Homo sapiens: one gene and its partners. The protein of the gene in region 2 interacts with the protein of the main gene of each other region in a pairwise test. Each region holds a gene or a part of one and is shown on either strand. Other genes may lie near its edges.

Evidence for each region. The genes of interacting proteins can lie anywhere in the genome.
Region 1: the proteins of PRPS1 (region 2) and MALT1 interact in binary tests that used the Homo sapiens proteins (3 or more experiments, as listed by UniProt).
Region 3: the proteins of PRPS1 (region 2) and PCMT1 interact in binary tests that used the Homo sapiens proteins (3 or more experiments, as listed by UniProt).

Annotation. Positions count from the first base shown.
Region 1 is NC_000018.10:58,749,505-58,756,225, reverse strand, and holds the end of MALT1 (mucosa-associated lymphoid tissue lymphoma translocation protein 1), read right to left. Parts: 3' UTR 1,749-6,721; downstream 1-1,748. UniProt on the Homo sapiens protein: Protease that enhances BCL10-induced activation: acts via formation of CBM complexes that channel adaptive and innate immune signaling downstream of CARD domain-containing proteins (CARD9, CARD11 and CARD14) to activate NF-kappa-B and MAP kinase p38 pathways which stimulate expression of genes encoding pro-inflammatory cytokines and chemokines.
Region 2 is NC_000023.11:107,645,510-107,654,734, reverse strand, and holds the end of PRPS1 (ribose-phosphate pyrophosphokinase 1), read right to left. Parts: intron 7,130-9,225; coding exon 6,970-7,129; intron 4,796-6,969; coding exon 4,703-4,795; 3' UTR 3,709-4,702; downstream 1-3,708. UniProt on the Homo sapiens protein: Catalyzes the synthesis of phosphoribosylpyrophosphate (PRPP) that is essential for nucleotide synthesis.
Region 3 is NC_000006.12:149,750,781-149,760,988, reverse strand, and holds part of PCMT1 (protein-L-isoaspartate(D-aspartate) O-methyltransferase), read right to left. Parts: intron 1-10,208. UniProt on the Homo sapiens protein: Initiates the repair of damaged proteins by catalyzing methyl esterification of L-isoaspartyl and D-aspartyl residues produced by spontaneous isomerization and racemization of L-aspartyl and L-asparaginyl residues in aging peptides and proteins.

The sequences.
Region 1 (6,721 bases), on a different chromosome or scaffold from region 2:
GAGTAGGTCCCGCACTGCCCCACTGTCCTCTCACAGCCCCACTCGGATTATGTATTTGGAGATGGGCTCAGGGAGTCTCAGCTCTAGGCTTACTGGTGACCCCAGGCCCTGTGGCATCTGGTCAGGAAGCTTCTGTGCAGTGTAGGCCAATAGCCAGCCTCCCTTTTAAGTGGCATTTTGAAAGCCAGCTGCTCCCATTGGCTCACCTGAAGACATCCCTTCTCCTGCCTCTCCTCAGCAGGGGCCTGCCTCCAGGGTAGCTCGGCCGAGCAGAGCATCATGGAATGGTCTTCCTTATCCTCCTTCTCGACATCATTTGGTGATGTTCTTTTCAGTCTACAGGCAGAATCAATCCTATCTAATAATGGTTGTGGTCTCCTCAGCCCTCAGCCCTCCACTCTCTGTTGGCCAGTCTAGCTTGGGCCTTGGTGGCCAGTGTTGGTCACGTGCTGCTAACAAGGGGCCAGGACACGAAAATGCCGGAAAAGGTAATTTTGCGAGTCACATCGTGGGTCAGGCCTGGGTGTGAAGTCAGCTTACACAGCTAGAATGGCTCCAAGGCAAGTCTGCGAGCTGAGTAAATGGATTATTGTAGCTACAGCAAACTGTCAGAAAGCACCTCGGGCAGCAGACATTGGCAGGGTCCTGTAAGTGCTGTCCAGGACAGAGAGACTCTTAGCTTGGAAGCATTCAGCCTCACTGGCAAGGCTGGCCAATGAGAGGGACATTTGGCTCATCTTAGCCTGCTGTCATTAACCATCAGGTTCATCTAGACGATCCCCTCCCCGCCCCACCCCGTGTTCCTTTTGTGCTCATAAAGCCTTGGACTATGATGTGGCTTTCTGCACGTATACTTCCAGGAAGAGCGTGTCTTAGCATGCCAGCCCTGTGTACCCCCTATCTGACCTTCCCCCAACAAGCACACTTCTCCCTTGCAGGTGAGAGTGCCACTGCACACCTTGAAACTGTATCCCCCACAAAGCTATAACTGGGCCAGGTGATGCCAAAGTACAAAATCAGGTTTTCAGACACTTAATACCTAGTTAGCAATAACAACTGATTCCAATGGGAAGATACCACATGGTGCTTCGCCTTGTTAATAACACCTGCTAGCAAGCCACATCTTGAATGACAAAGCTGATCTGGGGGCCAAGTTTGGTGCTGTTTGCTCCAGGGGCCCGAACTGCAGGTCAGGACCTGCTCACATGGCCTTTCCCTGTCACCAGCAGCTCACACTGGCTGACAGTGTGGAGTCCAGTGGCCTGGACTCCCTCCAGGCCAGACGCCTCCAGCCCTCACTGTGCAGTCAGGAGGCTTTTCTTCCCCTTTTCTAAGGGCTGCGGTCTCCCAAAGGCGCCCAGCTGGTGTGGGGTACGGCTGTGTGGGGGGAGAATATCAAAGCAAACAGCGGGGTTTAACGCAGACCAAAGCTTACTTGGAAAGGCAATGTGGAAAACAGTGGGGAACCCCAAGGCTGCCGCTCCAACAAGGGGCTACTCTGACGTTTGAAAACCACTAGACAAAGATGTGAGGTCAACTGTCTGACCAGGAGATTGGGAAGGAAACAAAGCCGCTTACCCAAGTTGGAGCATAACATAAAGGATGCTGAGGTTAGATGGCAATGTAGGAACCCACATCTGGCAAGAATAGATGTGTATGTTATAAACACAGACTATAAAAACTGTCAGCCTTTGAGGGAGTCACTGTCTTTGTAATGTAGAAATAACCAGTCTGTACAGACTTGGAAGTGGTAAAGCTAAAGCTTAGGAAAATATTTTTAAAATATTAACAATTTCCCTAGCAGAACAGCCTGCTGTATTGAGCATAATGTAGCAACATTAACTTCAGGTCAAATCCTTTGGAAATGTTTTCAATGTGACCTAAAAGTATATTTAGAGATGTACTTCTGCTCCTATAATGTTTCAATATTTTAAAAGTGTTTTTCATGGAAGAATGAAATATTAAGACACTGTTGTGTACTTTTCCCGTTACGGTATAAGCAGCAGCAGTACTGTGGACAAAACACCCGGCTCTGGTCTGGGTCTGAATCATCCTGGCTCTGCCCTTACTAGCTGGGTTATCCTGGAGGGTATAGTAACACCTCTGGTTAGCCTAACAATCAGTTCATCTATAAACTGCAAGGCTGTTTTAAATAAGACTGTGTGTAAAATGTTTAAACCTAGCACACAGAAAGGCATTCTATCTGCTACCCTGGTGCCTAATTAGCAACTTATTAATGTAGAAATACTCATCCAATCATTTTTAGTATCTAAAATGCTATTTATCAACTAAACTCAAGCATGAAAAAAAGTGGGAATTACTTCAGATTTAGAGGCAGAATCAGCTTTACTAATTTTGTAACAGAATAAGCACTCTGTAATGACACTGTACTTTTAAACTGAAGACTCCTTACGAAAAGTTAAAAATGTGTTCTTAAATGTATTGAAGCTGAGCATATTTACATTACACAATTGTGCATATCTGTATTTTAAAATTATACAGTCATTGTTCACTGTGTAAAATCTGCAAGACACAGGTAAACAAGCAAAGAAAAATTATCCCACCAGAGATAAATGCTGTTAATCTTTTAGTAAATCACCTTTAGAGCTGTTTTGCGGGATAGATACATAACACAAACTGGTGGCATTAAATCTGCATGCTTTTTGAAAAGTGATTCTGGAGTGAACAAAAATTGCAACTTTAGAAGATATACACTGCCGGCCGGGCATGGTGACTCACGCCTGTAATCCCAGCACTTTGGGAGGCCGAGGCAGGCAGATCACTTGAGGTCAGGAGTTTGAGACCAGCCTGGCCAACATGGTGAAACCCTGTTTATTTTAGTAGATACTACTAAAACTACAAAAATTAGCTGGGCGTGGTGGTGTGTGCCTGTAATGCCAGCTATGCGGGGGGCTGAGGCACGAGAATCGCTTGAACCTGGGAGGCGGAGGTTGCGGCGAACCAAGACGTGCCACTGCACTACAGCCTGGGAGACAGAGTGAGACTCAAAAGACAACAACAAAAAAACAAATAAAAAAAAACACTCTATACTGCCTACAGGTATAGCTTTAAGAATGCCAGATTTAAAGCACAAGGTTGATGGGTTGATGCTTTTCAAAATGCTGGCACTTTAGAGGAATGGTCTTATTTAGTACTGCCAGCTCTGGAAAGTATTATAAGCTCTTTGATGTTACAGCATCATCCCCATTTTACAGATAAGGAAACAGAAGCACAGGCAAGTTAACGCTCTTTGAGCCACGCTATTAGTAAGGGCTGAAACCTGAGGTGTCTCAGACTCCTTCTTCATAAAGCCAAACTTTGATGCTTAAGTATTTTTAATGCTACCAAATTAGAAAAAAAGAGAATATGCACATTTACACATTTTCATATTCTGATTGTACTCTTCTTTACTAATATTTTATTTTTGAGACAGCGTCTTGCCCTGTCGTCCAGGCTGGAGTGCAGTGGCACAATCTCTACTCACCGTAACCTCTGCCTTCTGGGCTCAAGCGATCGTCCCACTTCAGCCTCCTGAGTAGCTGGGACTACAGGTGTGTGCAACTATGCCCAGTTAATTTTTGTTTTTGCTTTTTTTTTTTTTTTTTTTTTGGTAGAGATGGGGTTTCACCATGTTGCCAAGGCTAGTCTCAAACTCCTGGGTTCAAATGATCTGCTTACCGCAGTCTCCCGAAGTGCTGGGATTACAGGTGTGAGCCACCATGCCCAGGGTTTCAGTGTCAAACTCTGAATTTGAATGACAATGTCAAACTGAGAAACAGGATGAAATGCACAAAAGTAATGTGTAAATTGAGTAGCTGACATCAGTTGACAGATAAAAGTAATGACAGTATATAAGCGTCAGGTGAATGTTCAAGGAATAGGAAACAACATTGTCAGGACGTCTGTTTGGAAAAAAACCCTTAAAAGTAAAATTACATACATCAGATTTTATCTAGATATTAAACTGATGCTGCTGAGGCAGGAGGATCACTTGAAGACAGGTGTTTGAGACCAGCATGGGCAACAAAATGAGATCCCACTTCTAATAAAATTAAAAACAAACAAAAAAAAGCTTATGCCAGTATACATGTCAGTGATCTAAGCTCTGGCTACATAATTGAATTTCTTCAATTTGACAAGTCAAAAAATTGCGACTGCTGCACAGGACACCTCACTGTTACTTCATGTGCAAGTCAGAGATTTGAAAAGAGGCATTAGAGATGGGGGAAGAAGGCAATGTCTAAATGGACCTTTTCTGTGCCAGGATTCTTCTTTAAAGGCTTTCTTTTCTGAAACGTTTTGACTTGTTCATCACTGAATGAGGAACAATAGTGTTTTAAATTCAAATTGTCCCATGAGTTGAGATTTCTTTTATTAGGAAATATACAATTTATAATTGTGACTTTAATTTTTAAAAATTACCTTCCAGAAAATATCCCCTCTCAGCATCAAGTATTGGCTTTGAATTTGGGTGAGCCTTTACTTGCTCAAACCTCCACTATCCTAATTTCTTTATTACATTCTAATTGGTATTGACAGATTTGATAGATTATCATCTTTTCTAAATTCCACTTGTGTAAATCCTACTTTAATATTACAAAGCAATTGGCACGAGATTCAAGTAAAATAAAAGCATGGTTGATAAAAAAGAAGACCAAAACTGTTATCATTCTTCTTAAGCCCGTTTTAAAATTACATGTTTAGATTTTTTAAAAAATTCATGCGATTCTCCTGTTTCAGCCTCCACGGATGCTGCAGTGAGCTGAGACTATGTCGCTGCACTCCAGCCTGGGCGACAGAGCCAGGACTCTGTCTTAAAAAAAAAAAAATCAAATATACAGAAGAGTATAAAGGGGAAGTACGATTCTCCTGCCTCAGCCTCCCTAGTAGCTGGGATTACAGGTGTGTGCCACCATGCCCAGCTAATTTTTTTGTATTTTTAATAGAGACAGGGTTTTGCCATCTTGGTCAAGCTGGTCTTGAACTCCTGGGCTCAAGTGATCCGCCTTCATTGGCCTCCCAAAGTGCTGAGATTATAGGCGTGAGCCACCACACCCATCCTAAAACTAAAATTTTATGTTCAGTTCCTCACACTAGCTATTATTTCAACTGCTCAACAACCCCATGAGGCTAAAGGCTATCACACTGGGAGTGCGGATACCAAGCATCCCATCATCACAGCAAGTTCACTGGACAGTGCTGCTCGGTGGTAACCACAGCTGAGCACCTGCATGTTTGTTTGTTTTTTTATCAGATACATGATTTTTCAAAAATTTTTCTCCCATTCTGAGGGTTAACTTCACTTTCTTAATGGTGTCCTTTAAGGCGCTAAAGTTAATTTTGATGAAGTCCCATTTATCTACTGTTTGCCTTTGTTGCTTGTGCTTTTGGTATTATGTCTAAGAAACCATTCCTAAGCCCAACATCACAAAGATTTACTTCTGTTTTCTTCTAAGAGTTTAAACTCTTATATTGAGGTCTATGATCCATTTTGAGTTAGAATTTGTAATGTGGTAGGAAGGTAGGGATCCTTTTGCTGTGCACGTAGCTACCAGTTAGTTGTCCCAGCACCGTTTGTTGAAAAGACCACTCCTTCTCTATTGATGGTATTGGCATCCTTGTTGAAAACAAGTTGACCAGAAATGTATGGGTTTATTTCTGGATGTTCAGTTCCATTCCTCTGATCGATATGTCTATCCATATGCCTACACTGTCTTATTGTAGCTTGGTAGCACTTTTTGAAATTGGTACGTCTTCCAACTTTGTTCTTTTCCAAGGTTTTTTGGCTATTCTGGGTCCCCTGCGTTTCCCTACCAATTTTACCAGTTTGTCAATTTCTGCAAAAAATACAGCTAGGATTTTGATAGGAATTGTTGAATATGTAGACTAATTTGGGCAGCATTGCCATCTTACCAATATTCAGTCTTCCAATCCATGAACATGGATGTCTTTCCATTTATCTGGATCTTAATTTCTTTAAACGTGTTGGAGTTTTATTCTTGATGCTACTGTATATAGGATTTCTTTATTCTCATTTTCAGAATGTTTGCTGTTAGTAGAGAAATAAAACTGATCTTGTATCCTGCAACCTGTTGAACTCATTTATTACTTTTTATGGATTCTTTAGCATTTTCTATATACAACTATGTATCAACTGTGAATACATATAGTTTCACTTCTTTTGCAGTATAAACCTCTTTTCTTTATTAGCTTATTTGATTTTTAGATGTTGAACAAACCTTGAATTCCTAACCTAACTGCTGTGGCTAGAACTTCAAGTACAATGCTGAATAGAAGTAGTGCCGAGTGAACATCCTTGTCCTTCTTCCCAATCTTAAGGGGAAAACATTCAGCCTTCAGTCTATCACCATGAAGTATAATGTTAGGTGTGGGCTTTTCATAGATGTTATATTTATCATATCTAGGAAGATTCCTTTTATTCCTAAGTTTGTTGAGTGTTTTTATGAAAGAGTTTTGGATTTTATCAAATGCTGTAATAAGACAATCTGTGTGGGTTTTGTGCTTTATTAAATATGGTACAGTTGATCCTCATTATTCAAGGTTATGTATTTGTGAATTTACCAACTTGCTAAAATTTATAACCCTCAAATTGATATCCGTGGCACTTTTGCAGTCATTTGTGGATATGTGTAAATGGGTGAAAAATTTGAGTCACCCAGTACACATGTTCCCAGCTGAGGCTGAACAAGATGATGCTCTG
Region 2 (9,225 bases):
ACCCTGTACAGTTTCAGCTATTTTTGCTTCAAAATGAGCTTCCCCTTATTTTTTATAGTTGGCAGCTGAGCTATTGGAGGAATGAATATATTGGGGAAGAAAAGCTCAGGAAAGGGGAAGGATGGGGAGAGAAGTCTGACTGTCAGTGGAGAGTCTCTGGTTTTCCTTAGGGCACGGGGTGGGGGGACAGTAGACCAAGGAGTGGGCATACAGTAGCCCATGAGCAGTGAGGACTAGGGAAGGAGGAGCCACACCCACATGGGCAGGTTTCTGAGTCTCAGGCTCATTCCTGCCTCAGCCTCCCAAAGTGCTGGGATTACAGGTGTGAGCCACCGCACCCACACACTATTTTATTTATTTATTTCCTGGCTCCTAGAACTGAACACTTATTTTAAAAAATAACTTTATAGGACGGGCACGGTGGCTCACGCCTGTAATCCCAGCACTTTGGGAGGCTGAGGCAGGTGGATCACTTGAGGTCAGGAGTTCAAGACGAGCCTGACCAACATGGTGAATCCCCATCTCTACTAAAAATACAAAAATTAGCCAGGTGTGGCGGCGGGCACCTGTAATCCCAGCTTCTTAGAAGGCTGAGGCACGAGAATCACTTGAACCTGGGAGGCGGAGGTTGCAGCGAGCCGAGGTTGCACCACTGCACTCCAGCCTGGGCTAAAGTGAGACTCTGTCTTAAACCCAAACTTTAAAACTTTATAGCAACAAATAGCAGTTGAAGAGTTGTAAAGAGTCAAGTAAATGTTATAAACACAAAAAGAAATGCTCGAGCCAAGATTTTACAGAGTATCAAGCTTTATCTGCCATAATTTGGAGCACAATTTGCTTTATTCTTAAACAAGGAGTCTCAGAGTGGTAAAAAAAAAAAAAAAAAAAAAAAAATCTGCAAGAGAAAAACAAGTCTCCAAACACAGTGGAGGCAAAGCAGAGGGGGAATCTCTGGCTGTAGCACTCTTGCTTTTTAAACCACCACTGCCAAGACAGAAGCCACTTGTTTCAAACAGCAGCATCCATTCTATGTCATACCCCCTCACCTCCCTGCATTCTCAGGACCAGAGAAGAAGCTCAGCAACTCTGTAAGTTGGTGCCTCTATAAAAGATTTTTTTCATCTAAGTTGGGGCTGCTAGTCCTGGTCTTCTTTCCAGATTTGGATACCAAGTGTTTTCTGCTGAAAGTGTTAACTTGTATACTAATCGCATGTAGCCCTTAACAACCTGAAGGCATTAAAATCATAAAAAGCCTGAAATCCCAGAAAAGCATCATTTTCCTATTGCCATGCCCTCCTGCCATCTCATCCTTACTAGTTCTCAGTTGTGGGGGAGAACAAAGAGGCCTCTTAAAGGGAATCTGGTTATTGGAGGCACCTACCTTACAAAAAACTTGAAGTGAGGCTGAGGGGAGGAAGCTTTGCATTACTGCCCTGGGGACCACCACTCATAGAGATGTTGAGTAAACACATTCTGTGTGTGAAAAGCAGCCATTACATTAGGTCAGGAAACAGAGCCAGCCTCCTACCCCTGCTTTAGTCTGTACCTCCATTCTTCAGACAGGTGTTCAAGGGCAATCATGTAGCTATCACAACTAGAGTTTCTTGTCAACTGTGCTCGCTGCAACTCCACTTAGCTTTGGTGCTGCCTCCTCCTCATGCCCTGGCAGGTCTGCTCCTGCTACTATTCCCCACAGTCAAGAACTGCTTTGAGGCTAGGCACCGTGGCTCATGCCTGTAATCCCAGCACTTTGGGAGGCTGAGGCGGGTGGATCACCTGAGGTCGAGAGTCCGAGACCAGCCTGGACAACATGGTAAAACACCATCTCTACTAAAAATACAAAAATTAGCCAGCTACTTGGGAGGCTGAGGCAGGAAAATCACATGAATCCGGGAGGCGGAGGTTGCAGTAAGCCGAGATCGTGCCACTGCACTCCAGCCTGAGCAACAGAGCGATGCTCTGTCTCAAAAAACAAAAACAACAAAAACAAAAAACAACTGCTTTGAAAGGGATCAAAGTTGGGGACTGGGCCTTTTTTGAATAATCTCAAAACCTCATCCTAGGAAATGAATTACCCAAAGGGGCCCACAAGAGAGATCTTAATGTCAAAATATTCTGTAACAATGAGACCTGACCCACTGATCCAATACTTTAGGAAATAGCATGATGAGCAAGTGAAGGCATTGGTGCTTCACATCAGCTTCTCCCAGAGCAAAAATCTGAGATTAAAGAGGTCTAGAGGGTTAGAGGCGCACATTTCATAGTATACTTTAGTCCCTCCTGAATCACTTTTATCAAAGAGCTAGCTGTAAAATAGATATCCCGATATCCAACAAAAGCAAAAACAAAATAAACAAAAGTAGACCTGGGCTTCACAAATAAGGAAGCACTCTTCATGAAGCTCTGTAGCCATGTAGCTTCCCAAAGTAAAAGAGCACCCTTATTTGATGATGGGCCAAGAAACTCACTCACTTAAGGCCGCCATGGTGGCTCATGCCTGTAATCCGAGCACTCTGTGAGGCCAAGGTGGGCGGATCACTTGAGGCCAGGAGTTTGAGACCAGACTGAGCAACATGGCAAAACCCTGTCTCTACTAAAAATACAAAAATTAGCTAGGTGTGATGGTGCACACCTGTAATCCCAGATAACCTGTAATCCCTCTCGAGGCTGAGGCAGGAGAATCACTTGAATCCAGGAGGTGGAGGTTGCAGTGAGCCAAGATCGAGCCACTGCACTCCAGCCTGGGTGACAGAGCAAGAGAAAGATGAAAGACAGAAAGAAAGACAGACAGACAGACAGAGAGAGAAAGAGAAGGAAGGAAAGAAAAGAAAGAAATGAAGAAAGAGAGAGCTAAAGGGAAAGAAAGAAAGAGAAAAAAAAGGAAAGAAAGAAGGAAACTTAAAATTTTGGAATGCATAATAATTCATCCTTAAATTTTGCACATTTACCTTCTCAAAATAGTTCTTATTTAGCAGGGATGAAAGTAAATGCCCAGCCGGGCACCAGTGGCTCACACCTGTAATCCCAGCACTTTGGGAGGCTGAGGCGGGCAGATCACCTGAGGTCAGGAGTTCAAGACCAGCCTGACCAACATGGTGAAACCCTGTCTCTACTAAAAATATAAAATTAGCTGGGCATGGTGGCACATGCCTATAAATTCTAGCTACTCAGGAGGCTGAGCAGGAGAATTGCTTGAACCCGGGAGGCGGAGGTTGCAGTGAGCCAAGATTGCACCATTGCACTCCAGCCTGGGCAACAAGAGCGAAACTCCATCTCAAAAAAAAACCAAAAAATCAAAAAAAACAAAGAAAGTAAATGCCAAACGTATGTCAATTACTGATGAATGGAAGGAAATTATCACATTTGGCAAAATTAGTTCAAAATGAATAAATCACAGAAATTCTCCTCCCATAAGAAAATACCTAATTTGGATCTTCAGGAGTAAGAACCAGAGATCCACCAGACATTATACATGCTATAATTTAGGTATACTGCACAGAATTACACTCTTATCACATTCTCAGTAAACTCCAGACATCTTAGTCTTACAGTTGAATAAAACTGCTGCCAATGTCTTCTCTTGGTTTAACAATGAAGCTAACGTAGTTTGGAAACAAATAAGAGCTATCAATGGACAGCAAGACATCTATCTAAACCAAACCTTTAGCAGAGAGATCAGTACAGATTATGTATGATACAGACCCCAAATCACACAGGTACACACACTTTATTAGTTTCCTCTACAAGAGACAATAACATCAATCTTTTTTAACAGGAATCTCAGTTCATTTGAGAGGCCAAATAGATCCAAAGAAGGAAGATGAAAATTAAATACTTAAATTAATCAAAAGGCACTACGATACCACCTAAAACCTACTGCCTCAGTGGCAGTAGGCTAAGGAAGATCAAGCTACAGCACATCATCTAATATGAATGTTAGCAATTACATAGCAGGAAGCATGTTTGCTTTCCAGAAGACTATGGTACAATGTTCATTTGGGCCCAAGAGGATATTTGGCCAGGAAAGGATCAAGATAGATGAAGGTAAAGCCAAATCGAAAGGGATAGGTACAAAGGAGAATCCAAGCTACATAGTCAAGCAGATGGTGATGGATCAGGCTTCTTCCTCCCAAGAAACATTTGCTGCACTGTGCTGCCTCCCCCCTCAACCACCCCCCACCCCCCACCCAATGTCTGCTCAAGCTGAGCTGCCTGCTCCTGCCTTACAGGGTGCTCAGCTACCAGGACTAGGTTTGGGGTTGCCCAGGGCTCTTGCTATAATTTAGCATAGACCTTGGGGAGAACTGGTCACACATGGGTTGCCTTTGTTGCTAGTTGTTCTCAACAAAGAAAACCCTGAAGCATTCACATACAAAGTAGTCTGAGCTTCCCCAGTCACAGTCAAACACCCTCACACAACATCCTCAAAAGTCTGAAATCTTGCAGCAGCTGAGCTATAGTTAAAGCTGCAAGGCCCACAGAATTATCAAGGAAGCCAGAATGAGATAATGCAGGTAGGAGGTCCCAGCAGTTAATCTCAATCCGTCTTTCCCCAGTTCGGATAAGCTCTAATATACCTGATGTGGGATGTAGAAAGCTACACTGGAGCAAGCCGGGTCTTCTGCTGAATTTGTCATCAAATACCAAGGGGAAACAAGGGTGGGGTGGATTTTATTCTCAAAAAGCCTCAGAAGTTACTCTATTATAAAGGGACATGGCTGAATAGGTAAGAAACGGATTCTCCATTGTGAGTTCTCCTGATGGCTTCTGCAAGGATCATAGAGATGTCAATCACCTAGAAAGGCAAGAAAGGAAATCAGGTTACTATCATATGGTCAGAGATGACTGGCCAATTTGCAGACACTGATGAGCAGCCAGGCAAGTGCCCTTCCTCTTAAAACTGCAACACTGTGCTGTTTCCCTGTCATGAGGCTGCACTCAGCTATTCTTCATAACATTTTTAAGATAGCCACTTACGGCTGGGCACGGTGGCTCACACCTGTTAATCCCTGCACTTTGGGAGGCCAAGGTGGGCAGATCACTTGAGGCCAGGAGTTGGAGACCAGGCTGGCCAACATGATGAAACCCCGTCTCTACTAAAAATACAAAAATTAACCAAGCATGGTGTGGCACACGCCTGTAATCCCAGCTACTCGGGAGGCTGAGGCATGAGAATTGCTTGAACCTGGGAGGTGGAGGTTGCGGTGAGCCAAGATCGTGCCACTGCACTCCAGCCTGGGTGACAGAGCGAGACTCTGTCTCAAAACAACAAAACAAAACAAAACAGCCACTTAGGAAAGAGTCAAAATGCTAACTGAGAAAAAACGCTGACTTTGGTTCATCAAAATGGCTGGGCACTGTGGCTCACACCTGTAATCCCAGCACTTTGGGAGGCCAAGGTGGGAGGATCACTTGAGCCCAGGAGTTTGAGTCCAGCCTGGGCAATATGGTGAAACTCTGTCTCTACAATAAAACAAAAATTAGCCAGGCGTGGTTGTGGTGTATGCCTGTAGTCCCAGCTACTTGTGAGGCTAAGGCAGGAGGATCGCTTGAGCCTGGGAGTTTGAGGCTGCAGTGAGTCAAGATCAGGCCACTGCACTCCAGCTTAGGCAACAGAGTGAGACCCTGTCTAAAAAAAAATGGTGGTAGGTTCGCATTTAAAAATCCTTCTGAATAGGCTGGGCGTGGTGGCTCATGCCTGTAATCCCAGCAGTTTGGGAGGCCGAGGTGGACGGATCACCTGAGGTCAGGAGTTCAAGACCAGCCTGAGCAACATGGAGAAACCCCATCTCTACTAAAAATAAAAAATTAGTCAGGCGTGGTGGCACATGCCTGTAATCCCAGCTACTTGGGAGGCTGAGGCAGGAGACTCACTTGAACCTGGGAGGCTGAGGTTGCGGTGAGCTGAGATCGTGCCATTGCACTCCAGCCTAGGCAACAAGAGCAAAACTCCATCTCAAAAACAAAAAACAAACAAACAAAAAAACCTTATGAAGGAAAAAAAAAAGACTAAGTTGAAAAAAAATCCTTAAGAATGACATCACCTGTAATCTCAGCACTTTGGGAGGCTGACACAGGAGGATAGCTTGAGGCTAGGAGTTTGAGACCAGCCTGGGCAACATAGGGAGACCCCGTCTCTACACATAATATCAAAAAAATTAGCTGGGCATGGTGGTGCACGCCAGCCACTTGGGAGGCTGAGACAGGATGATTGCCTGAGCCTTCAAAGTTGAGGCTGCAGTGAGCTTTGATTGCGCACTCCGGCTGGGGCAACAGAGCAAGATCCTATCTCAAAAAAAAAAAAAAAAAAGATGATAATCCTCCAATTACACATATTAATTTCAAAAAGCTCATAGATTAATGTGAACATTTTTAATTAAGCAAGGCCTTGTTCTTTTAGTGCAAGAGCACTCAAACTTTAGTTTCTAACAATTACTTGGGGAATTACTTTAAAATACTGGTTCCAGGACCTCTGGTTTTATAGGTCTTAGATGGAGCAAAGGAATCTACATTTTAATAAGAACCTTAGGTCCAGAGCACACTGAGAAACACTAAAGTTGGTAGAAGTGTACAATCAGTTTAAAGGTTTCACATTATATCTACAGGGGCCGATAGTTAACAGACAAACACATACTGTAAAGTATGGACTTGAAAACTTTAATTTGCATCAGAATCACTGGGAGAACCTGTTAAAATGTAGAATCTTAGGCTCCATCTTCCAGAGATTCTGAGGTGTAGCAATTTAAACTTTTAAACAGGTGATTTTCCCAAGGCTTGGCAGTTTGAAAAGAAAAAAAAAAAGGAAAAGAAACAGGTGATTGTTAACTTTTGGATCACAAATTCTGATGACAAGACTAAATCCTTCAGACCAAAGAAAGATATCTTCAGAATCCAGAGACCTAATTCAACGTAAGTAACCACCTCCTAAACACTTAGAAAAGTCTTGTTTTGCACAAATCTCATCCTCACCTGTATTTTGGAGCAATGCTTCATCTTGTCCTCCTGAGGTATGGTATTGGTGACTACTACTGCCTCAAAGCATGCGTTGTTGATGCGAGAAATAGCAGGACCGGAGAAGATTCCATGAGTCAAGATGGCATAAACTCTGGTGGCGCCAGCTGAGAGAAGTCTAGAGGGAAAAAATGTTGATTTGGATTCATCTTACTTGTCATTGCAGAATTTTAGTCAGGGAGGAGTATATTAGCCTGCTTAGGCTTCCACAACAAAATATCATATGAAAAAAAATAAAAAAATAAAAAATATTATAAGGCACAGTGGGTTAGGGGAAAAATTTTTTTAAGGAAAAGAAAATACCATAGAATGGGTGGCTTAAATAACAGAAACAAATTTTTCACAGTTCTGGAGGCTTAAAGTCCAAGATCAAGGTGCAGACAAAGTAGGTGTCATGCTGAGGCCTCTTCTCTTGTAGGTGGCCACCACTTTGCTGTGTGCTCAGATGACCTCTTTGTGTGTGAGTGTGAGTGTGTGTGCACGCATGCGTGCGCATGGGGAAATGCTGGCCAGTTCTCCAGCATTCTCTTCTTATAAGGGCATTCATCCCATTGTAAGGGCTCTGCCCTAGTGACCTCATCTAATCCTAAATACGTGCCCCTCAAGGTAACTCCAAATACCATCACATTGGGGTTAGGCCTCAACATATATGAATTTGGGGAGGACACAATTCAGTCCATATCGAGAAAGAACTGCACTAAGAACTTATCTGAATAGGTCTGAATTAGTGTCAAAGGACTCTGGCATAGACTGTTGCACTTAACAAAATCCACTTCCTCTTCTTTCTGGGCACATAGCTGAACTACATTTCCCAGCCTCCCTCACATAGTTCAGTGTGGCCATGTGGCTTAATTCTGGCTATTAAAATGTGGGCAGACACAATGTACATCAGTTTTTGGTTGGACTTAACAAAAATCTTCCAGGGGTGATCCTCTGTGTTCTTTTCCTTTTCTGGCTGGCCAAAATTGAAATGTCTTCCAAGGTAATCTTGGAAACCCCATGTTAAAGATATAGCACCAAAGATTGAAAGAATCTGAGCTCCTAACTATTGCTTAGAAAAAATGAGTCCAACAAGAACACTTGCATTGGAGTGTGCCATGGACAAGAAGGAAACTATCATGTTAGGGAGTTGATCTGTTATAGCGACTAGTATTCCCGTACTTGTACAAGGATGAAATGGGTTTTATGAATGTTTACTCCAGGATCCCAAACCAAGAATCATTCACCCCAATTTTTTTTTAGCACCTATTATGTGCCAGGCACTGTGCAAGGCACAGACACAAGAAAGTTTAAAAAAACCATTCTCAGGGCTGGGTGCTGTGGCTCACAGCTGAAATCCCAGCACTTTGGGAGGCTGAGGTGGGAGAATTGCTTGAGCCCAGGAGTTCAAGGACAGCCTGGGCAACATAGTGGGACTCCTTCTCTACAAAAATAATAATAATAATAATAAATAATTACCCAAGTGTGGTGGCACTTGCCTGTAGTCCCAGCTACTCGGGAGTCTGAGACAGGAGGATTTCTTGAGCCCAAGATTTCAAGACTGCAGTGAGCCGTAATTGTACTACTACACTCCAGCCTGGGTAACAGAGTGAGACCATGTCTCAAAATAAAAATAAAAGTAAAAATACCATTCTAAGAAACAATGCTGCTCATAGTGGCTTGGATTGTTAGTAATGAGGGGCCACTTAAAATCTTAAAGAGTGATGGGATCGAGCCTCAGTTGCAGGAAGATTAGCAAGCATGGAGAGATGGAGTGGGGAGGTGAGAGAACGGTGACTGGCAATGGAGAACAGAGTGGGGAGGCAATTTAGAACACTGCAGGCAAGAGATGACAAGTAATATAAACATTAACCTATCACAGGATTAGAGTGAAAAAAAGAAGTAATAATGAACAAAAGTAGCAGCCGGTAAAACAGTCGAGAAGTAAGACCAAGGGTTCCGGCTTAGGTAAAATAAAAATATGAGCACACACACCTGTCTGCTCAGGATTTTTATTTTAACTCATTAAAACAAAAAACAATCGCATGTAGCATACTCAGGGTGATCAAAAAACTTTGATGATCAGGCGATGGTTGTCTAACATTGTGAATATAGTTAATGTCATGGAATTATACACTTAAAATAGTTAAAATGGCAAATTGTGTTATATGTAGCTTAGTACAATATAAATTTAAAAAATAAGAAAATCTGAAAAAAAAATAAGAGTACTCAACA
Region 3 (10,208 bases), on a different chromosome or scaffold from region 2:
TAGAATTATTTGGGTGCATTCCCAATTAGTCTCCCTGTGATTATGTGAACTCTTACAATTAAGTTCTTGTCAATGGAACATACGTAGAAATTATGGATACAACTTCCAGAACATGCTCTTTTTGTTTTGTTTGTTTTTTGAGACGGAGTCTTGCTCTGTGCCAGGCTGGAGTGCAGTGGTACGATCTTGGCTCACTGCAACCTCCGACTCCCTGGTTCAAGCGATTGTCCTGCCTCAGCCTCCCAAGTAGCTGGGACTATAGGCATGCACCACCATGCCCAGCTATTTTTTGTATTTTTAGTAGAGACAGGGTTTCACAGTGTTAGCCAAGATGGTCTCGATCTCCTGACCTCGTGATCCGCCCACCTCGACCTCCCAAAGTGCTGGGATTACAGGCATGAGCCACTACACCTGGCCCAGATCATGCTCTTAAAAGGAATGGGTGTTTTCCTTTTTCTCCTGCTTACCTCCCCATTGGCTGGAAGAGGGAAATGGTGAAGGTAAACTATCTTTAACCTTGTAGATGAGGGAAAGAGCAGAGCAACAAGAGAGGAGTCTAGGTCTTCAGCACCATGGAACCACCATATTAGTCTTGAACTGTTTGGACTGCTATGGGAGAGAGAAACTTATTTTGTTTAAGGTATTGTGGTTTGGTCTTTTTTTATAGCAACTGAACAATGTACCCTCATGCACAAGGCATATGAAGAGGCAAATAAGACCAGCCTGCAGAACAGGATTGGAGTTGGAGCATGGGAGTAAGCTATATAAGACTCTAAAAAGGCCTGGAAAGGTAAGCAAAAGGTGTTTACACCTGATACAGTAAGCATTAAGAAGCCTAAGCAGCAAAGTGACATAACAGAAATCAGTACACTAGGAAAAAATCAGTATAATGTGTAGAATGGATTGGATCTGAAAGGAGGGAAAATGAAAAGTATGACAACCAATCAGACACCAGGTATGTTACTCGTAAGTTTCAACTACGAACCTGGGCTGGGATGGTATCAATGAAAATATGGTGAAAGGGATGGCTATGAAAGGCATTTGTAAGAACTGCTGAGTTAATCTGATGACAGTCTGAAAGAATCAGTGATTATTCTAAGATATATGATCTAAAATGCTGAAAACTCTGGCAGAAATAAAAAAATAAAGAGGGCCTGTGTTGGTATAAGCACTGAAAATACAGGTAAGAAAATAGGCCGGGCGCAGTGGCTCACGCCTGTAATCCCAGCACTTTGGGAGGCCGAGGTGGGTGGATCACCTGAGGTCAGGAGTTTGAGACCAGCCTGGCCAATATGGTGAAACCCCGTCTCTACTAAAAATACAAAAATTAGCCAGATGTGGTGGCAGGTGCCCGTAATCTCTGCTACTTGGGAGGCTGAAGCAGGAGAATCACTTGAACAAGGGAGGCGGAGGTTGCAGTGAGCTGAGATCCCGCCATTGCACTCCAGCCCGGGCAACAAGAACAAAACTCCATCTCAAAAAAAAGAAAGAAAGAAAGAAAGAAAATAAGCTGCAGATAGATTTCAAGTCATATAGAAACTTTCTAAGCTTGTTACAAGGTTACATCTAAATAAAAGAAATATTACCTTATTATATTAGTTTATAAGACTTGGATAGCTGTTAACCATCTACCCCACATTTCTTCTCTGCTATCAACATGTCTGGAAAAACAATAAGAAATTAACAAAACTTTCACCTTTTTCTTCCCATTCAGAATGATTAGGCATGATAGATGCTAAGTAGAGGCTGAGACACTCCCAGGTACTTTCTGTACTGAAAAAATGTGAAAGGAATTAGTTTTAAATTCACAACATGGCCGGGCGCGGTGGCTCACGCCTGTAATCCCAGCACTTTGGGAGGCCGAGCCGGGCAGATCACGAGGTCAAGAGATTGAGACCATCCTGGCCAACTTGGTGAAACCCTGTCTCTACTAAAAATACAAAAACTAGCTGGGCATGGTGGCATGTGCCTGTAATCCCAGCTATTCGGGAGGCTGAGGTAGGAGAATCACTTGAACCCACAAGGTGGAGGTTGTCGTGAGCCGAGATCGCGCCATTGCACTCTAGCCTGGGCAACAAGAGCAAAACTCCGTCTCAAAAAAGAAAAAAAAAATTCACAATATAATTAAGGAAGAATTTTATGTGATGGCAAGTTACGGTAAAGCATATTCTCTAAGTACCAGAGATTATTTTAAAATATGTACCTTCCTCTGCCAATCAATGGGGAAAAAAAATAAAATGGATCTTTCACTATACCTTAATAACTTTTAATTGATACATAGTATTTAGATGTTATTTCTCAAAGGATATGTTCCTTGGATTCCTTTACATCTCTAACAAACTACAATGTTATACAAAACCTAAAATGCAGGTAACATTAGAAGTTAATGTTAAACTTCTGTAGCTGGCTACTAAAACACATACACTCCACAAGTAATTTCATGCAATCCATAACACTATTAAAAAAAAGAAAAAAATTGGGCCAGGTGCAGTGGCTAATGCTTGTAATCCCAGCACTTTGGGAGGCCGAGGTGGGCAGATCACAAAGTCAGGAGTTTGAGACCAGCCTGGCCAACATGGTGAAACCTCGCCTCTACTAAAAAATACAAAAATTAGCCAGGCGTGGTAGCATATGCCTGTAATCCTAGCTACTCAGGAGGCTGAGGCAGGAGAATTGCTTGAACCGGGGAGGCGGAGGTTGCAGTGAGCTGAGGTTGCGCCACTGCACTCCAGCCTGGACGACAGAGCAAGACTCTGTCTCAGAAAAAAAAAAAAAAAAAAGAAAGAAAGAAAGAAAAAAAAAATTGGTTGGGCGCAGTGGCTCACTCCTGTAATCCTAGCACTTTGGGAGGCCAAGTCGGGTGGATCACTTGAGGTCAGGAGTTTGAGGCCATCCTGGCCAACATGGTGAAACCCCATCTCTACTAAAAGTACAAAAATTAGCTGGGTATGGTGGCACGTGCCTGTAAGTCCCAGCTACTCGGGAGGCTAAGACACGAGAATCACTTAAACCGGAGAGGCAGAGGTTGCAGTGAGCCAAGATCACACCACTGCATTCCAGCTTAGGCAACAGAGTGAGACTCTGTCTCAAAAAATAAAATAAAATATTTTTTAAATCATAAAATCTAGGTACAAGGGACCACTGGGGAAAAAAATCACAGAATCTTGGATTTGGAAGGGTCCTTAGAGATCTAGTGTACATTCAAATCTGATGACAAAATCCCTTCTACAATATCCCTTACAGTGAAATGGTCAACCATTCTTTGCTTCAACATATTTGGTGACAGAAAACACTTTTTCAAAGCCAACTTTTTGATTGTTAGGATAGCTTTGTGAATACTTACTTATAATGAGCCAAAATCTGCCTCCCATTTGTCCTGGTTTGACCCTCTACTACATGACATTTCTTCAAATTTAAACACCACTGCTCCCTAAAGGTTTTGCTAAACCAAACCACCTCCATCCCTTCAAAGCACCATGTAAGATGCTGATCCTCTTGTTATCTTCATCACTCTTATCCAATAATCTTTAGTTTTACACTGCCACCCTGAAAGCATTTAACCAAAGCTAAATATAATATTAATAAAAATATTTTTGTAACAGCACAATCGAATCTTTCCCCTCCTACAGCCTAAGATCTCATTAACCAGAATGTAATACAGCCAAGCATCAAGATCTACTGCAATCCAAAAGAACCTTCAGTGATGGCAGATCTATTCTCTATCTGCACTGTCCAACAGGGTGGGCACTAGCTCCATGTGGCTACTGAGCTCTTGAAATGTGGCTAATATGACTAAAGATATAAATTTTTAATTTTATTTATTTATGTATTTATTTTGAGGCAGTTTCGCTTTTTCACCCAGGCTGGGGTACAATGGAGCGATCTCAGGTCACTGCAAACTCCACTCCCCGGGTTCAAGCGATTCTCCTGCTTCAGCCTCCGAGTAGCTGGGATTATAGGCTCCTGTCACCATGCCCAGCTAATTTTTGTATTTTTAGTAGAGACGGGTTTTCGCATTGTTGGCCAGGCTGGTCTGGTACCCCTGACCTCAGGTGATCCACCCACCTCGGCCTCCCAAAGTGCTAGGATTACAGGCATGACCCACCACGCCCGGCCAATTTTATTTATTTTTATATAATTTAAATTTAAATATATACATAGGATTTCAAGTTTACTTACTAGTACCTATCCATAAGACTGGTTTGAAATAAGTCAAAATGAGAAGGCCTCTGGACTTTGAGGCTCCAATTTCTTAGGATTTTACCAGCTGGTTCTATTTTTCCCATGTGCATACAAAAGTAGTGGAATATTAAGAGTAAATGCTGGCTGGGCGCAGGGGCTCATGCCTATAATCCCAGCAATATTGGAGACTGAGGCGGGTGGATCACTTGAGCCCAGGGGTTTGAGACCTGCCTGGGCAACATGACAAAACCCCGTCTCTACCAAAAAAAAAAAAAAAAAAAAAAAAAAAAAAAAGCCAGTCATGGTGGTGTGCATCTGTAGTCCCAGTTACTCGGGAGGCTGAGATGGAGGAGTCGCTTGAACCCAGGAAACAGAGGTTGCAGTGAGCTAAGATCACGCCACGGCACTCCAGCTTGGGCGACAGAAAGAGGCTCTGTCTCAAAAAAAAAAAAAGGGAAAGAATAAATGCTCTTTTCTACTAGCAACACCTACTAGTGGCTAAGAACTGGTGCTGTAGATAGAAAATAATTTCATTATTTACAAAAGTAAATGCTTTTAGGATATAAAAACTACAAATCATAATTCTTGCATATTCAAATGCCTACTAAAAATCTCGACTTAAATGTCTTATAAGAAAAGCATTCCTCAAAATAATCTGATCTCCCACAGTCCCCTCCTCACAGAATAAACGTGGCTGCTCACTCACTCACCATTTCCAATTTAGAAAATGGCAAATCATTCCAGTTGCCAAGGCCTAAAACCTTGGTGTTGGATCCTTGCCTCCAATCTTTTCTCCCAGATCCTAAATCCAAATCTGGAATTCGCTATTTCTTCTGCCTGGAATGCTTATCCCAAGTCTACCTGCGTGATATGTGTCTACTCCTCCAGCAAATCTTTGGTCTAATGATACCTTACTGAGGCCTTCTCTACAACTATAAACCTACTGCCCCACACACTCTGTCCTCCCTCCCTACTTTGTCACTTATCATGTGACATACTATACTTGGCTGCTCCCATTAGAAGCTACAAGAGGGAGTGGATGTTTGTTTTGTTCACTGCTGTATCCCCAGTGCCTGTCATATAGAAAGCACTAAAATATCAGCTGACTAAATGACAAATTCCATAAACATTATATATGTAAAATGACAAAATCAAGAATGCAAAAGAAACATAAGTAGAAACAATTGATCATTAGGGGAATGGACTGAATTATTTTTACAAATAAAAATAGATAAAAGAACAATTGCTTTCAGTGGTCAGTACAGTAGTTTCCCTTTACCCACAGGAAATACGGTCCAAGACCCTTAATAGATGCCTGAAACCGCATACAATACCAAAGCCCATACAGCCCATACAGATACTCAACATTTTTTTTTTTTTGAGACAAAGTATTGCTCCATCACCCAGGCTCGAGTGCAGTGGCATGATCTTGGCTTACTGCACCCTCAACCTCTCGGGCTCAAGTGATCCTCCCATCTCAGCCTCCCACGTAGCTCATGTAGCTGAGACTACAGGCATGCACCATAATGCCCAGCTAATTTTGTTTATTTTTTGTAGAGAAAATGACAAATGTTATTTTCACTATGTTGCCTAGGCTGGTCTCAAACTCCTGGACTGAAGCGATCCTCCTGACTCAGCCTCCCAAAGTTCTGAGATTACAGGTGTGAGCCACCGCACTCGGCCTTCCTTAACTTATAACAGGTTTATTATGACAGGTTTACATCCAGTAAAGTAAAAAACTTGTAAGTCAAACCACTGTTAAGTCAGGGACCATCTGTATGTTGTTTTCTTCCTATACGTAACATACCTATAATAAAGTTTAGTTTATAAATTAGGCACAATTAAGAAATTAACAAAAATAATGAATAAAATAGAACAAGTATCATTACATGCCAGCACCATTATTCTTGCACTTTGGGTCCATTATTAAGTAAAATAAGGATTATTTGGACACAAGCCCTGTGATACTATGACAGTCACTGCTAACCAAATAGGCTACTAAGTGACAAACGGGCAGGTGTAGACAGCATAGATATGCTGAACAAAGGGATGATTCATGTCACGGGCAGGATCAAGTGGGACGTCCAGAGAGTTCCTCACGCTACTCAAAACAGCACACAATTTAAAACTTATGAATTGCTTGTTTCAGGAATTTCCCATTTAATATTTTCAGACCTCAGTTGACTTGGGGTAACTGAAACTTCAGAAAGCAAAACCATGGGATAAGGGAGGGACTACTCTATAGCATTTGAAGCCTATCCATTAAGTTAACATCCCACAAACCCTCTGGTTTAAATACCCCTGCTCCAGAACATCACCTCACCTACTCTGGCTATCTTCCTAAATTTTACCATGGCTTGAAATTATCTCAATACGAGTAGGAAGTAAACTCTAATATAAACATTATTTAAATAGTCACATTCCCTGGATTAAGCAGGCTCACGGTTTCAAATTAAGCTAATTTGTTTCACGAGCACATTACCAGTCCATAATCATAAAATAATTGTATTTTTTCATTTCTAGAGACCTGTGCTGTCCAATATGGTAACTACTGGATACATGTGGTTATTTCATTAAGTTAATTTTTTAAAAAATTGAATTTCGGTTCTTCAGTTGTCCACATTTCAAATGTTAAATGCCACATGTAGCTAGTAGCTACCACACTGGACAATATAGAGAACATCACCAAGCACTCTATAGGGCAAGACTGCTATAGACTTTTTCTAAAACATTATTCTAAAGCATAAAACTGATTTAGCTGATATGCTGGCAGAATTCAACCTTATAATTTTCAATTCTCCATGTCACTGGTTCTCAAAATGTGGTCCCTGGACCAGCAGTGGCACCACTTACAAATCTGTTAGAAATACAAATTCTCAAGCTCCGGCAATCTGTATTTTGAAAAGCTCTCCAGGTGATTCAGGAGATTTTGAAGCATGCTCAAGTTTTAGTCACTGTTCTAAGTTACTTAAGAGTGGTTATAATATAAGCCATGACATAAGAAATCTACCATTACAATCTGAAATATTCTATAAATGATGCATCAACTATGAAATCATACAACCACAGTCCTATTATGATAGATTTTAATACAAAAGGAAAACAAAATATTCTTAACAAATTATATTAAGCTTCATTTCTTAAAAACAAAACAAAACAAAACAAAAAAAACTATTGGCCAGGTGTGGTGGATCATGCCTGTAATCCCAGCACTTTGGGAGGCTGAGGCAGGCAGATCACCTGAGGTTGGGAATTCAAGACCAGCTGACCAACATGGAGAAACCTTGTCTCTACTAAAAATACAAAATTAGCTGGGTGTGGTGGCGCCTGCCTGTAATCCCAGCTACTCGGGAGGCTGAGGCCAGAGAATTGCTTGAACCTGGGAAGCAGAGGTTGTGGTGAGCTGAGATCGTGCCATTGCACTCCAGCCTGGGCAATAAGAGCGAAACTCTGTCTCAAAAAAAAAAAACCATTAAAAATGTAATTTCCTTCCCCTTCTAGTAAGCAGGCCCCTTTTCATTTCAACATCAACACAATCACATTTTTATATTTTTCTAAGATTTCAATTAAAAGCCTTTAATTTAGGAAGAATATACACAGTAGAATAATGAGGAAGGAAGGCAATATTTTCAAATTTTATGTCAATTACAATTTTCACATGAGCAAGTATTACTTTTATAATAAGCTAATAAAAAGAAATCTATTAGCTAGAATTACCTCAGCAAGAAGTTGAAACTAAAGTTGCACAAGTGTTACAAAAGAGGCTAAACAACTATTCTACTCTAATTTCCTCTTACCAATCATAAATCTAGTATAAAACTATTTGCAAAATCAACATCTATGTATATTAAATATTCCTTATTAAATTTCCTGACAGAAAAACATCCTTAGAAATTTCAGCTAAGAACAGTAATGCAATACATTAAAGTGATTATGAAACCACCGGGAAAAGATCTATCTAGTCTTGGCTTACCACAAATTTGGCCCAAAAAAGGAGAGACTTTAAGAGCCTGATTGATTACAAATTTCTGCCACAGCCAAGTGCCTACTATGATAACCTACCGGTGGAAAATTACTTAATCACAATTTGTGTACAAAATGTTTCAGGTACATATACTGCAATAGAAGGCACTGAGATCATGTTAAGGGATTTCGTAAAAAATATTTACAACATATTGAGCTTATGTGCCATCCATGAGAACCCAAATCATACTTCATACTACTGTTGTAGCACATAAATGTCCATTTCCAATCAAGCATCATTCCATAAAATGAACCTGACAATGCTTGACAAAATATTGACATCTAGGCTGGGCGTGGTGGCTCACACCTGTAATTCAAGCACTTTGGGAGGCCGAGGCAGGCAGATCACCTTAGGTCAAGAGTTTGAGACCAGCCTGGCCAACATAGTGAAACCCCGTTTCTACTAAAAATACTAAAAATTAGCCAGGCGTGGTAGTGGGTGCCTGTAATCCCAGCTACTCGGGAGGCTGAGGCAGAAGAATCGCTTGAACCCAGGAGGCAGAGGTTGCAGTGAGCCAAGATCACGCCATTGCACTCCAGCTTGGGAAACAAGAGCAAAACTCTGTCTCAAAAAAAAAAAATGTTGACATCTAAACATTCACCATGGCCAGGTGCGGTGGCTCACTCTTGTAATCCCAAAATTTTGGGAGCCTGAGTCCAACAAATTGCTTGAGTCCAGGAGTTCAAGACCAGCCTGGGCAACATAGCAAGACCCCATCTCATAAACTACCAAAAAAAAAAAAAAAACCCTAAAAATTAGCCTGGTATGGTGGCACCACTGTACTCAGGAGGCTGAAGTGGGAAAATCGCTTGAGCACAGAAAGCAGGGGTTGCAGTGAGCCGAGCTCACACCACTGCACTCCAACCTGGGTGACAGTGAAACCCTGTCTAAAAAAAAAAAATAATCAACATTCTCTCTTACCAAACACTAAAGACTCAGTTTCCACATTAAGTATTGTCCCCCCACCAAAAAAAAATCCAAAATGACTAATATATCAAGTACCGGCCTGGCGCGGTGGCTCACGCCTATAATCCCAGCACTTTGGGAGGCCGAGGTGGGCAGATCATGAAGTCAGGAGTTCGACATCAGCCTGGCCAACATAGTGAAACCCCTTCTCTACTAAAAATACAAAAATTAGCCAGGCGTGCTGGCAGGCGCCTGTAGTCCCAGCCACTCAGGAGGCTGAGACAGGACAATTGTTTGAACCTGGGAGGCGGAGGTTGCAGTGAGCTAAGACCGCGCCATTGCACTCCAGTCTGGGCTACAGAGGGAGTCTCTGTCTCAAAAAAAAAAAAAAAAAAAAAAAGTACCAACCATGTGCCAAACAGTACTCCTAATTTCTCTCAATTACCTTTGTCTGTCTAGCACAGATTTAGGCATATAACGGACATTTAATGGGCATTTATGAAAAAAAGGGATGACTGTTAAATTCTTAGAGAAAATTCAAAAAAAAATTTTTTTTTTGAGGCGGAGTTTCCTCCCTTGTTGCCCAGGCTGGAGTGCAGTGGCAAGATCTTGGCTCACTGCAACCTCCCCGTCCCGGGTTCACGCGATTCTCCTGCCTCAGCCTCACAAGTAGCTGGGATTACAGGCAGGCACCACCACGCCCGGCTAATTTTTGTATTTTTAGTAGAGATGGGGTTTCACCATGTCGGCCTGGCTGGTCTCGAACTCCTGAACTCAGGTAATCCACCCGCCTCGGCCTCCCAAAGTGCTGGCATTACAGGCGTGAGCCAATGAGCCCGGCCAAAAAAAATTTTTTTTAATGGTGCCAGCCGTTAAGGAAATTACAAATCGAGTTGAGAAATAAGACAAACACATGAAAAGCTAAGTAACACAGGACAATTAAAAATACCATGTGACAAGATATGATTACTGCATAGTAGCGAATAATGCTATAAATTCTGACCAGTGAGTTTATTATAGACTGCGGCCCTTGTAGTCTCCCAACAAAACGGGGACGCTATATTTCGATTTAAAAAAAGAAAGTGACACAGCACTC